Regions from separate parts of the Homo sapiens genome. Here region 2 is linked to region 1. Evidence: fine-mapped expression QTL. A gene starts in region 1. The other region holds a variant in brackets. All regions are shown on one strand. Distances are between the middles of the regions.

What was found. PIP is the estimated chance that this variant, and not a neighbour inherited with it, causes the effect.
Region 2: its variant is fine-mapped to the expression of TMEM184B in whole blood (TOPMed, PIP above 0.99). The same link has a PIP of 0.9 or more in gastroesophageal junction, subcutaneous fat, thyroid and tibial nerve.

The regions. Positions count from the first base shown.
Region 1 is chr22:38,270,873-38,276,238 of GRCh38, reverse strand. It overlaps TMEM184B (transmembrane protein 184B), which reads left to right and starts at 3,229. Exons shown (of 9, transcript NM_012264.5): 1 at 3,229-3,355. RefSeq lists a silencer at 3,077-3,706 and an enhancer at 3,769-4,478.
Region 2 is chr22:38,220,990-38,226,349 of GRCh38, reverse strand. It overlaps TMEM184B (transmembrane protein 184B), which reads left to right. Exons shown (of 9, transcript NM_012264.5): 7 at 757-926; 8 at 1,371-1,565; 9 at 4,640-5,360. The coding sequence ends at 4,881. SNORA92 (small nucleolar RNA, H/ACA box 92) reads left to right here and starts at 1,630; the gene lies at 1,630-1,871. RefSeq lists enhancers at 1,191-1,691, 3,107-3,607. The variant C/T (reference allele first, on the strand shown) is at 2,300.

The DNA of each region.
Region 1 (5,366 bases):
CATTGCAGATATGGTGGGTAATTGGGACAAAGACTTCCTCCTGAAGGGGTTAGTGTGTAGGGAGGGAGAGCTGGGAAGTCATAAACAAGTTACAATGCAATTGATAAGCCTTACTCTTGTTAGGACAGACCCAGGCATGTCCTACCTGGGGCTGGGGAGGAATCGTTCTATAGGATTTTGCTATTACCAGATCTCTGGTCATGTTATACCTACTTTTGCGGGGGCATGTTCTCTATGCCAGACCCTGTACTAAGTACTGGGATTACATCAGAAAACAAAAAGGATACTTGGGAGGCACAGGCAAGAGTATCGCTTGAACCTGGGAGGTTGAGGCTGCAGTGAGCCAAAATTGCACCACTGCATTCCAGCTTGGGTGACAGAGTGAGACTCCATCTCAAACAACAACAACAACAAAAAAGCCAAAAAGGATGAAAATCTTTCTCTTCAGAATTTATTGGCCAGGCACACAGTGGCTCACACCCGTAATCTCAGCACTTTGAGTGGTCTAGACGGGCAATTGCTTTGAGCCCAGGAGTTTGAGGCCAGCCCTGGCAACATAGCGAAACCCCATCTCTACAAAAAAAAAAAAAAAAAAAAAAAAATACAAAAATTAGCCTGGTATGGTGGCACATGCCTATAATCCCAGCTAACCAGGAGGCTGAGGTGGGAGGATCACTTGAGCCTGAGTGGCGGATGTTGCAGTGACCTGAGATTGTGCCACTGCACTCCAGCCTGGGTGACAGAGACTGTCTCAAAAACAAAAAAACAAAACCGAAAAATTTTGTGTTCTACTAGAAGAAGACACACAGGGAAACAGGCAAACTATATAATATGATAGAAATGAAGTGACAGGGTGGCTCACGCCTGTAATCCCAGCACTTTGGGAGGCTGAGGCAGGCGGATCACGAAGTCAGGAGATCGAGACCATCCTGGCTAACGCGGTGAAACCCCGTCTCTACTAAAAATACAAAAAATTAGCCAGGCATGGTGGTGGGCGCCTGTAGTCCCAGCTACTCTGAGGCTGAGGCAGGAGAATGGCATGAACCCGGGAGGCGGAGCTTGCAGTGAGCCGAGATAGCACCATTGCACTCCAGCCTGGGTGACAGAGCGAGACTCCGCTTCAAAAAAAAAAAGAAAGAAAGAAAGAAATGAAGTGACAGGGAAAGTAGGGCACGGTAAAGGGAAATACAGAGTGCATGTGAGGGGTCTGGTAGTTTTACTAGGGGTGCTCACAGCAGGCCTCACTAAGTGGAGGACATTCGAGCAAACCCTTGAAGAAGGTGATGGAGGAGCCATTCAGGTATCTGGGGAAACAGCGATCGCAGCAGAGGGAACAGCTAGTGCAGGGGGCTCGGGGCTGAGTGTGCTCAGCTTGTTCTAGGAACAGCAAGGGATCAGTGTGGAGGGAAAGGGTAAGAGATGAATGAGATCAGGAATCCCCAGGAGAGTAGAATGTCAGATCAAGTGTTTGTAAGGACTTGTAAGGCTTTTACTTAGAGCGAAACAGTGAGCCAATGGAGGGTTTTGAGCAAAAAAGTACCATGTTTTGACTTCGATTTTATTTTATTTTTTGAGACAGATTCTCATTTTGTCACCCAGGTTGGTGTGCATTGGCACGATCTTGGCTCACCACAACCCAACCTCCGCCTCCCGGGTTCAAGCAATTCTCATGCCTCCAGAGTAGCTGGGACTACAGGCATGTACCACCACACCCAGCTAATTTTTGTATTTTTAGCAGAGACAAGGTTTCACCATATTGGCCAGGCTGGTCTGTAACTCCTGGCCTTAAATGAGCCACCCGACCTCACAAAGTGCTGGGATTACAGGCGTGAGCCACCGTGCCCGGCAGATTTTAAAAGAATCTTGGCTGGGCGTGGTGGCTCACGCCTGTAATCCCAGCACTTTGGGAGGCCGAGGCAGGCGGATCACAAGGTCAGGAGATCAAGACCATCCTGGCTAACGCGGTGAAACCCCGTCTCTACTAAAAATACAAAAAATTAGCTGGGCATGGTGGCGGGCGCCTGTAGTCCCAGCTACTCGGGAGGCTGAGGCAGGAGAATGGCGTGAACCCGGGAGGCGGAGCTTGCAGTGAGCCGAGATCGCGCCACTGCACTCCAGCCTGGGCAACTTTGAGACAAAGAGCGAGACTTTGTCTCAAAAAGAAAAAAGAGAAAAAAAAAAAAGGATCTCCCTCACCCCTGAATTGATAGAATGGATCAGAGGGCAAGGCTGGAACAAGGGAGAGGGGTTAGCAGAACTCTGCAATAATCCTGTGCAAATACTGGACCAGGGTGGTAGCACTGGAGGAGGAGTGGCAGACATCTGAGTCTAGATCTATTTTGCAGGTAGAGCCAACAGGATCTCCTGCCTGCCTTATTGGGTAGCGGGCAGAAGGGGGGCATTCATTCACAGCTGACTCCGAGTTCTGGCCTGGGGACTGGAAGGATGGAATTGTCAACAGCTGATGGAGGCAAAGCTGAGAGGGAGCAGGTTTTTGTGTGTGGAAGTGGGGTTGGCTCAGCTCAGACACGCTGACTTTGAGATGCCTGCTGGAGCTCCAAGGAAGAGGTGTTGGGTAGACAGTTCAGGCGAGGAGTCTGGAGACATAAATACATTTGGGGATCTTGAGCACATCAATGCCAGAACTTAATTGCATTTTATCTTGTTCAGTTAACCTAGGTGATGTCTGGACCGGCAAACAGAAATGGACTAGGCGGCTTGAACCCTATCTGAAGACTTTTGCTAGTTCGGCAGCCTAGAGCCAGACGGGGCAAGAAAGAATCGCTGCTAAGCGGAGTGGGAAAAAAAGGCCTCTTTCAGTGCTTTGCCATTTCATCTGGCCTAATTGCACACAACACTCGGTCCACGTTCATTCCACAATTCCACACGCATCCTTCACTCAACAAATAGCCATTGTATTTCGTTTCATCTTCAAAACAGGCTCAAATGGAGGAAATTAGGGTTAAAAGAAGTGAAGCACCAGCGAGGGTCAGGGGCAGAGATCGCAGCCCAGAAAGCTCTCGCGGTTGGGGGCCGGTCGTAGCTGGTTTTGTGAGTGGCAAGAGAACCCGGGTCGCGCCCCAACCCGCGGGGCGGCGGGCTGGGGTTCGGGGCGGCGGGCTGGGGTTCGGGGCGCGGCCCCTTTAAGGCCCAGGCAGTGATCTCAGCCGCGTCCGCCGCCCCGCCCTCCCCGGCGGCGAGCCCAGAGCGCATGCGCGCCGCGGCTGCACTCCACTGGGCCCGGGACGCGCCGGCGGCGGCGGAGACTCCGGGGCTGCGGCGCCGCCCGCCCCGCCCGCAGAGTCCGGCTGCCGCGCATCGTCCGCAGACGCCGCCACCGCCATGGGCTCCTGAGGTATCCCGCCTGGCCGGCCTCGCCCGGGAGCCCCAAGGGGGAGCTGCGACTCCCGAGCGCGGGGGGCTGCTTGTTTCGGAGAGGCCCGCGCGAGGGACGCCCGGCTTCGGCCGCCGGCTCCCGGGCGGGGAGGGCACTACGGAGGCCGGTGCGGCCGCGGAGGGAGGGGGCATCCGTCTCCCCACCCGTGCCTCCTCTCCGCCCCGCGAGGTCGCCCGTGGGTGTGCCCGCTCCCTTTCCACGCCAACGTGGCGGGGGCAGCTCCTGGAGTGTAATCGGACCTGTCCGGGGGGCGGCCCCGGGAGAGGGAGGCGGATGGACCAAGGCGCTTTGCAAGAGGGATTGTGTGCTCCCGGGTGGGTGTGCTGGCGACTGGCACGGCCGAGTGAGTGGGGGAGGCGTCCGTGCCCTGTGCGGGTGGCAGTGACCTGGGAGGGTGGTCGGCGGGGGGCTTTCGGGGCTGCGTCGTGAGTGGAGGGTGTACACGCCCGCCACACAGGTCCGCAGGTTTGGAAGGGGATCGACTGGGACCTGGGGCTCGAAAGATGTTTGCCCCCAAAGGGACCGTGGAGACTGGTTTTGGGTGTCTGTATCCTTCCCGTGAATTGTACATTTCCTCCTGGGCACACCCTTGGTACCTCGCTTGGATCCACTTACCTCCAGTGCTGGGTGGCTCCAGGCCAAGGCAAGGCAGTTATGCTGGGGGTTGGGCATGGATTCCCAATACATATCCCCTCTGGAGGTGTTGTATAAGGCCAGACGTTTTACTCCTCCCTCCTTTCCAGGGCATTTTGGGGCAAAGCAGGTATTTGCATGCCTGATACCTGTGGTGAGGTGAAGGCCATGTATTATTTATCTGACTGCTGGTGCTTTTGTAAGGAAAGAAGCAGCAATCTGTGCCCTGGAGGCCCTGCGCTGCAGAGTCAGCCAGGCAAACAAGCTCACCTGCACCTGCAGAGGCAGCGCAGGTCTCAGAGGTGTGACTTCGTTGACAGGTTATGCCTACAGTGTCCCTTTCCATCTACCTATTTAGCTTCCTTGGTAGAACCCCTAGGCTCTGCACCTCTGAACCTTGCCTAGGGTGCTGTGCGTATCAGAGTTGGGACCTGGGACGCTGGGGTGGGAGAGCCCCAGCAGCCAGGTATGTGTGCCCACCTGGACAGAAACATTTGATGCCCAAGCCATCAAGGAGCTCTCAAGCATGGGGGAATCAGATTTGGAAACAGGTGATCACGATGATGTGAAAAATACCAAACAAAGGAGTAGAAGGAGTACAGAGGCAGGTTCAGTTCCCGGGGAGGGGGATCGTGGCCGCAGGAAAGACTCCCTCATAAGGAGACGGTTGAGCTGAAGCCTGAAGGATGACTGACGTTCATCTGAGGCTTTTCTGCTTTCCACATATATTTTCCTGTGTAATTTGCACAGCAGCTGTGTGAGTAAGGAACAGTTGTCCCTATTTGCAGATGCGGTAAACTGAGGCCCAGAGGGAATTCATGACGTTCTTCTCCACGATACGTGGCAAGCCTGGATGGAATCATCCTTTAACCAGGACCTCTCTCTTGCTGCCAGATCTTGTCTTGCAACTTACTGAGCATCTACTATGTGCCAGGCACTATGCTGGGGCATAGCGGTCTGATGATCAATGGGACCTGGTGCCTGCCTTCTAGGGGCTCCCAGTGCTGGGAAGATGGACACTGATTTAGTGACCCCAATCTGGATACGAGGCTCCAATAGCTAATGTGGGTGGAGAAGGCGCTGTGAATTCCCCCAAAGCATTTGTGCAGTCGTTGGGATTCTGGATGTCTTATTTGTTGCACCCACGGTGGTGGTGGGTTATTCAAAGAGCCCCTTCTGAATTTCTCCAACCAAGTAGAAAGAAGAGCTTCGAGGCAGAAGGGTGAATGAGCCACTTGTCCTAGTTCTTTCCTATTGGCCGAGTTCTGTGAGCAGGGGCTTCTGTCCGGAGGCTGTTTGCTCCCTCTCTGTCTTAGAGGTTTTGCTCCTGGTCTCT
Region 2 (5,360 bases), 50 kb after region 1:
TAGCACTTTGGGAGGCCAACGCGGGTAGATCACCTGAGGTCAGGAGTTCAAGACCAGCCTGGCCAACATGGTGAAACCCCATCACTACTAAAAATACAAAAAATTAACCGGGCGTGGTGACGGGTGCCTATAATCCCAGCTACTCGGGAGGCTGAGGCAGGAGAATCGCTTGAACCCAGGAGGCAGAGGTTGCGGTGAGCCAAGATCACGCCATTGCACTCTAGCCTGGGTGACAAGAACAAAACTCCATATCTAAAAAAAAAAAAAAAAAAAGTGACCATGTGTCTAGCCCTGTGCTTTCAAGCTCTCGGCACACACTGTCTGTGAACTGTGTAACAGCCCTGCCAGGGCAGGTGGGCAAAAGGAGGTCAGGGGGATGCAGCCGACCGAGTGAAAAGGCAGCAGAGCTGAGCAGCGTCACCTATTTTGACGCCTGTTATCTGAGTGTCAGGCTATGGCCTCGGGCCCGGCCCTGGCTTCCACACTGGTGTCCAACGTTAGGAGTGTGGGCACCAGGGCTTAGACAAGTCCACGAGCCACGCAGAGGCAGTAGAGCTGGTCTGGCCTGCAGGCGCACCCCATGTACCCCCACCCCTGTCTGTCGCTTTGATCACCCATTCTGACCCCTTCAGTGGCTCGTTGAGCTCTGCTGGAGGTGTGGGGCTGAGAGCCATGGGGACTGTGTGTGGTGCAGTCGAGGAGAGCCCCTTCCCTCCAAGGGTCTGTCCCAGCCAGAAAATGCTCCCCGTCCCGCAGCGTCACCAGTGGCTACCTCTACGTGACCATCATCTACAACATCTCCGTCAGCCTGGCCCTCTACGCCCTCTTCCTCTTCTACTTCGCCACCCGGGAGCTGCTCAGCCCCTACAGCCCCGTCCTCAAGTTCTTCATGGTCAAGTCCGTCATCTTTCTTTCCTTCTGGCAAGGTGAGCCCCCTCCCAGCACCTGGAGGCTGCCCATGCCACCCTGTCCTCTGCGCTTCCTGCTGCCCCTTCTGCTTATGGTCCCTGGTGCCTGTAGGGCCTGTTCAGAGGGGCCTCAGCCCACTGGGCACTTGCTGGGGGTGAAATCTGAGCCCTCGAGGGCCTTTCCCAGGGGCTAGGGAGAGCTTTGGTGGGGCCGCTACATGGATGAGAGGGCCCAGGAGACCCTGCGTAATTGCTGGCATCTCAGTTTCGGTGGCAAAGAGCTGGGAGAGTGGGGTTTCCGGAGGCTGTGGCCTTGTGTCGCTACCCCTGCCCTGCAGGAGCAGCTGTGGCCCTGCTCACATCCTCACTGGGGCATGTGGGCAGCTGAATGGGGCATTGTGGAAGAAGGGGGAGCAGGAAAGGAATCATTCTGGGTCCAGACACCCGTGCCTCCCCATCCAGGCATGCTCCTGGCCATCCTGGAGAAGTGTGGGGCCATCCCCAAAATCCACTCGGCCCGCGTGTCGGTGGGCGAGGGCACCGTGGCTGCCGGCTACCAGGACTTCATCATCTGTGTGGAGATGTTCTTTGCAGCCCTGGCCCTGCGGCACGCCTTCACCTACAAGGTCTATGCTGACAAGAGGCTGGACGCACAAGGTATGAGCCAGGGTCCTAGGCGACCCCCGCTGGGAGAAGCAGGGAGCCCCAAACATCCCAGGACCCTCCCACCTCCCAGCATCCTACAGGTGCGGCTGGGTCAGGACATGGGATCCCCACTCTATATGCAGGAATGGGGCCACAGAGGTCGGGGAAGAGCAGGTGCCACCAGCACGACCGATTCGGTCCTGGAAGCTCAGGCCACCTGTCCCTTGCAGCAGGTCCAAGTGTGGCGGTCCAGGGCTGATACAGACAGAGACTGTAATGAATAGACAAATTCCCTCGGGCTTCTAACTCCCAACACTGTGGTTACCATTTTGTCCTGTAATTCCCTCATCTCATATGCTATTTTTTAAAAAAAGGATACTTCTGGCCGGGCACGGTGGCTCACGCCTATAATCCCAGCACTTTGGGAGGCCGAGGCGGGTGGATCACAAGGTCAGGAGATCGAGACCATCCTGGCTAACACGGTGAAACCCTGTCTCTACTAAAAATACAAAAAATTAGCCGGGCGTGGTGGCGGGTGCTTGTAGTCCGAGCTACTCGGGAGGCTGAGGCAGGAGAATGGTGTGAATCCAGGAGGCGGAGCTTGCAGTGAGCGAGATTGTGCCATTGCACTCCAGCCTGGGTGACAGAGCAAGACTCCGTCTCAAAAAAAAGAAAGAAAGAAAAAAAAGAATACTTCTGAGAAACAGACTCGGATGGTAATAGGTTTTAACAGCTTTCTTTTACAC[C/T]TGCGAATCTTCCTCCTTGCTAGAACAGTGGTAAGTAGCCCCAGTTGTACTGGAAAATGCCCTGGAGAGCTTTTGGAAGTGCTGATACCCAGCCCCACCCTCGGAGATCCCGCTGTAATGGGTCCGGGCTGGCAGGCTGGGTGTGCTGTGAGAGTTCTGTGCTTTAAGCACTCCCAGGGTGATGTGAAAGTGCTGCTGCCCGGGACGCTCCACTGGGCTGGAAGGGCTGCCTCTGGCCACTGGGCAGAAGGGGGTTGTCCTTGGAGGATGGGGAAGAGGAGGCTGGGAATGCCTGAGACTGATTGAGCCAGTAAAGGGGCAGGAGGGACTGGGGAGAGGGGAGCCTCCTTCTCTGACACATCCACCCAGGAGCCTGGCTGCTGCCAGCTGTCTGCCCGAGTGGCTGGAGGCAAGAAACCCACTTCCCCAGGGCCTACCTGCAGGCCCCACACAGGCTCCGTGGTGGGTGGTGTGGACTGTAGAAATGTCTGCCTGCAGCGGGGCTCCGCGGCCCACTTCCCGCCCCCCTTCCTCTGTGCCTTCCCTGGTGGGGGAAGACCTACTCTGTGCCCAAAGAGCAGGTGCACAAAGGCCAGGGGTTGCCACCTGGTGGCCCAGTTGGAAGGATCTAGCAAACACACACCCAGCATTGAGGGCAGTGTCCCTTGGACCTGGTGTGGTATACCCTGTGCCCGTGGGAACATCATCCTTGGGCCTGGGGCCTGGGGCCACCCCAAGGAGCAAGGGGGCCCATGGCAGAGAACCATTCCTGCACCACTGGGGCTCAGCAGAGGGGCTCTGCTGCCTGGCCTGAGCTGTCCCTCTAGACATACCCACGCCCGGCCGGGGAAGCTGCTTGCCCTCTTCTGCCTCCCCACTGGTCCTGAGCCCCCTGCTACCCTCTAACCCAGGCCCAGACCCTCAGCCCTCAGGATAGGCTTAGGTGCAGAGCTGGCTCAGCTGTGCGATTGTAACCCCTCCCTCTGAGCCTCCATGTCCTGGTCTGGGAAGTGTTGTGAGGTTTGTAAAATGTGAGGTGTGGATGTGGCCCCAGGCTAGCCGGGGAAGAAGTGGGGATGGGACGTCCTGACCTAGACGTGGAGGCGGAACTCAGTCGCCAGACGGATGTTTCCTGTTGGCGTGAACACCAGGGGAGGAGTCATCCCTAGGTGGATATCCCCCCTGCCAGGCCCCAGGAGGCACCTGGAGCTTCCTGGGTGCCCTGTGGGGCCTGGGGGGGTGGGGACAGGGTGTGTGGTGTGTCGTGCTGGTGGGCCTCGGTGGTGGGCACACATTGTTCACTCAGCTGTCTCTTGTCTTCTCTATTTCTTTGGCTTCTCTCCCCGCCCCCCTTGCCCTGCTTTTGCCCGGGGTTTGGCCGCGGGCAGTGCCAACATACGGCCCTTACGGTAGGTCCCGCTCTTGGTCTGCATGTCTGTCCTGCATGTCAGTTCTGGTCACTGTCACTGGCATGCGTCTCTCTGTAGCTCTTCTCCGTGTCCTCATCTCCTCCCCACCGGCACCCCCTGGGTGGGAGCGCCCAGAGCACCTGTCAAGGGCCACCCTCTGTAGAGCTTGCCTGCTTCCGTCCTCGTTTCTCGTTCTGGAATATGCCCCGCCTTCTTCTGGGGGCACAGTGCTGTTCATGGGATATCGGGGCATTTCACGATGTTTCCAAGAGTTCACAAGCTGAGTCAGGAATCCTGGGTTCCAGGGGTGGGCTCGTCCCTTACATCCAGGTGTCCTGGGCCACCTTTCTGCTCTGAGCCCCTGAGGATGGGGACAGTTGATTAGAGAGATGAGGAGGAAGCCCTCTTAGAGGGAGCCAGTGAGTCGCATCTGCTCCCCTGGGGGTGCAGGCCAGCCTGGTCCTGATCTCCAGAGTAGAGGGAGCACAGCACTTCCCCCGGTGGTGGGGGACGCGCCTGGCACCTGTGGAACCGGGCACCCCTGGCTTCCAGGCCCTCTGGCCCCACATGCCCCAACTTCAGTCAGTGCTGAGCCTGCTCTGGCCTCTCTGGGGCATTCTAGGCTCACTGCCCATAGCTTGCCAGTCTCCACCCTGGGTCCCTTCCCTGCAGCCAGCCCAGCTCCCAGTGGGGGTTTATGTCTGCTCCTCTTCACAGTCCAGCCTCCCCTTGGGGCTCCCCAGCCAAAGAAGTCCATTTTTTCCTGCCCCTTCTCATATCCTGGACCCCATTCTCTGTCCCAGAAGGGATGGTTGAAGGGCATAGCTTTGGGTTGGGGGGTGTCTGTCCCAGGATCACGGGCAGGGGCTGAGCCACCTCCCTCTCACCGTCCCAGCCTCCTCACCTGCCCCTCCCGCTCCCTGCCCGGCAGGCCGCTGTGCCCCCATGAAGAGCATCTCCAGCAGCCTCAAGGAGACCATGAACCCGCACGACATCGTGCAGGACGCCATCCACAACTTCTCACCTGCCTACCAGCAGTACACGCAGCAGTCCACCCTGGAGCCTGGGCCCACCTGGCGTGGTGGCGCCCACGGCCTCTCCCGCTCCCACAGCCTCAGTGGCGCCCGCGACAACGAGAAGACTCTCCTGCTCAGCTCTGATGATGAATTCTAGGTGCGGGCTGCAGTGGCGGAAGTGCTGGCGCCATAGCCACGGTCAGGCTGTGCCCCACCTCCAGCCTCACCACCAGGCCAGGAGGCAGCTGGCACAGTGCTCACGCCGCCTTTATTTATTGGACCAGAAACACTCACATGTCACTTCCAGAGGAACGGGGGACAGCCAGGCTCGCCCATGGGCCTTCAGGAATATTTATACATGGCCCAGCCTGCACTGCCCGGGCGAGGGCAGAGGACACTGGGAGCAAGGCTTATGCCCCTGCTGCCCGTCCTGTGCTGGGGGCATGCTGGGACCAGCCGCACCCAGGCCCCAATGCTTGTGTGTGGACCAGCGGCTGCAGCCTTCTAGCCCCTCCTCCCCGCGAGACTCTCAGGCTGAGGTCGGCAAGCCGTGGCTCCCCCACACACCGTGCAATACCCTGTCTGACCTGGGCTCTTCCCGCCTGCATCCCTCCCCTGTCCACCTTTGTCCAGTGC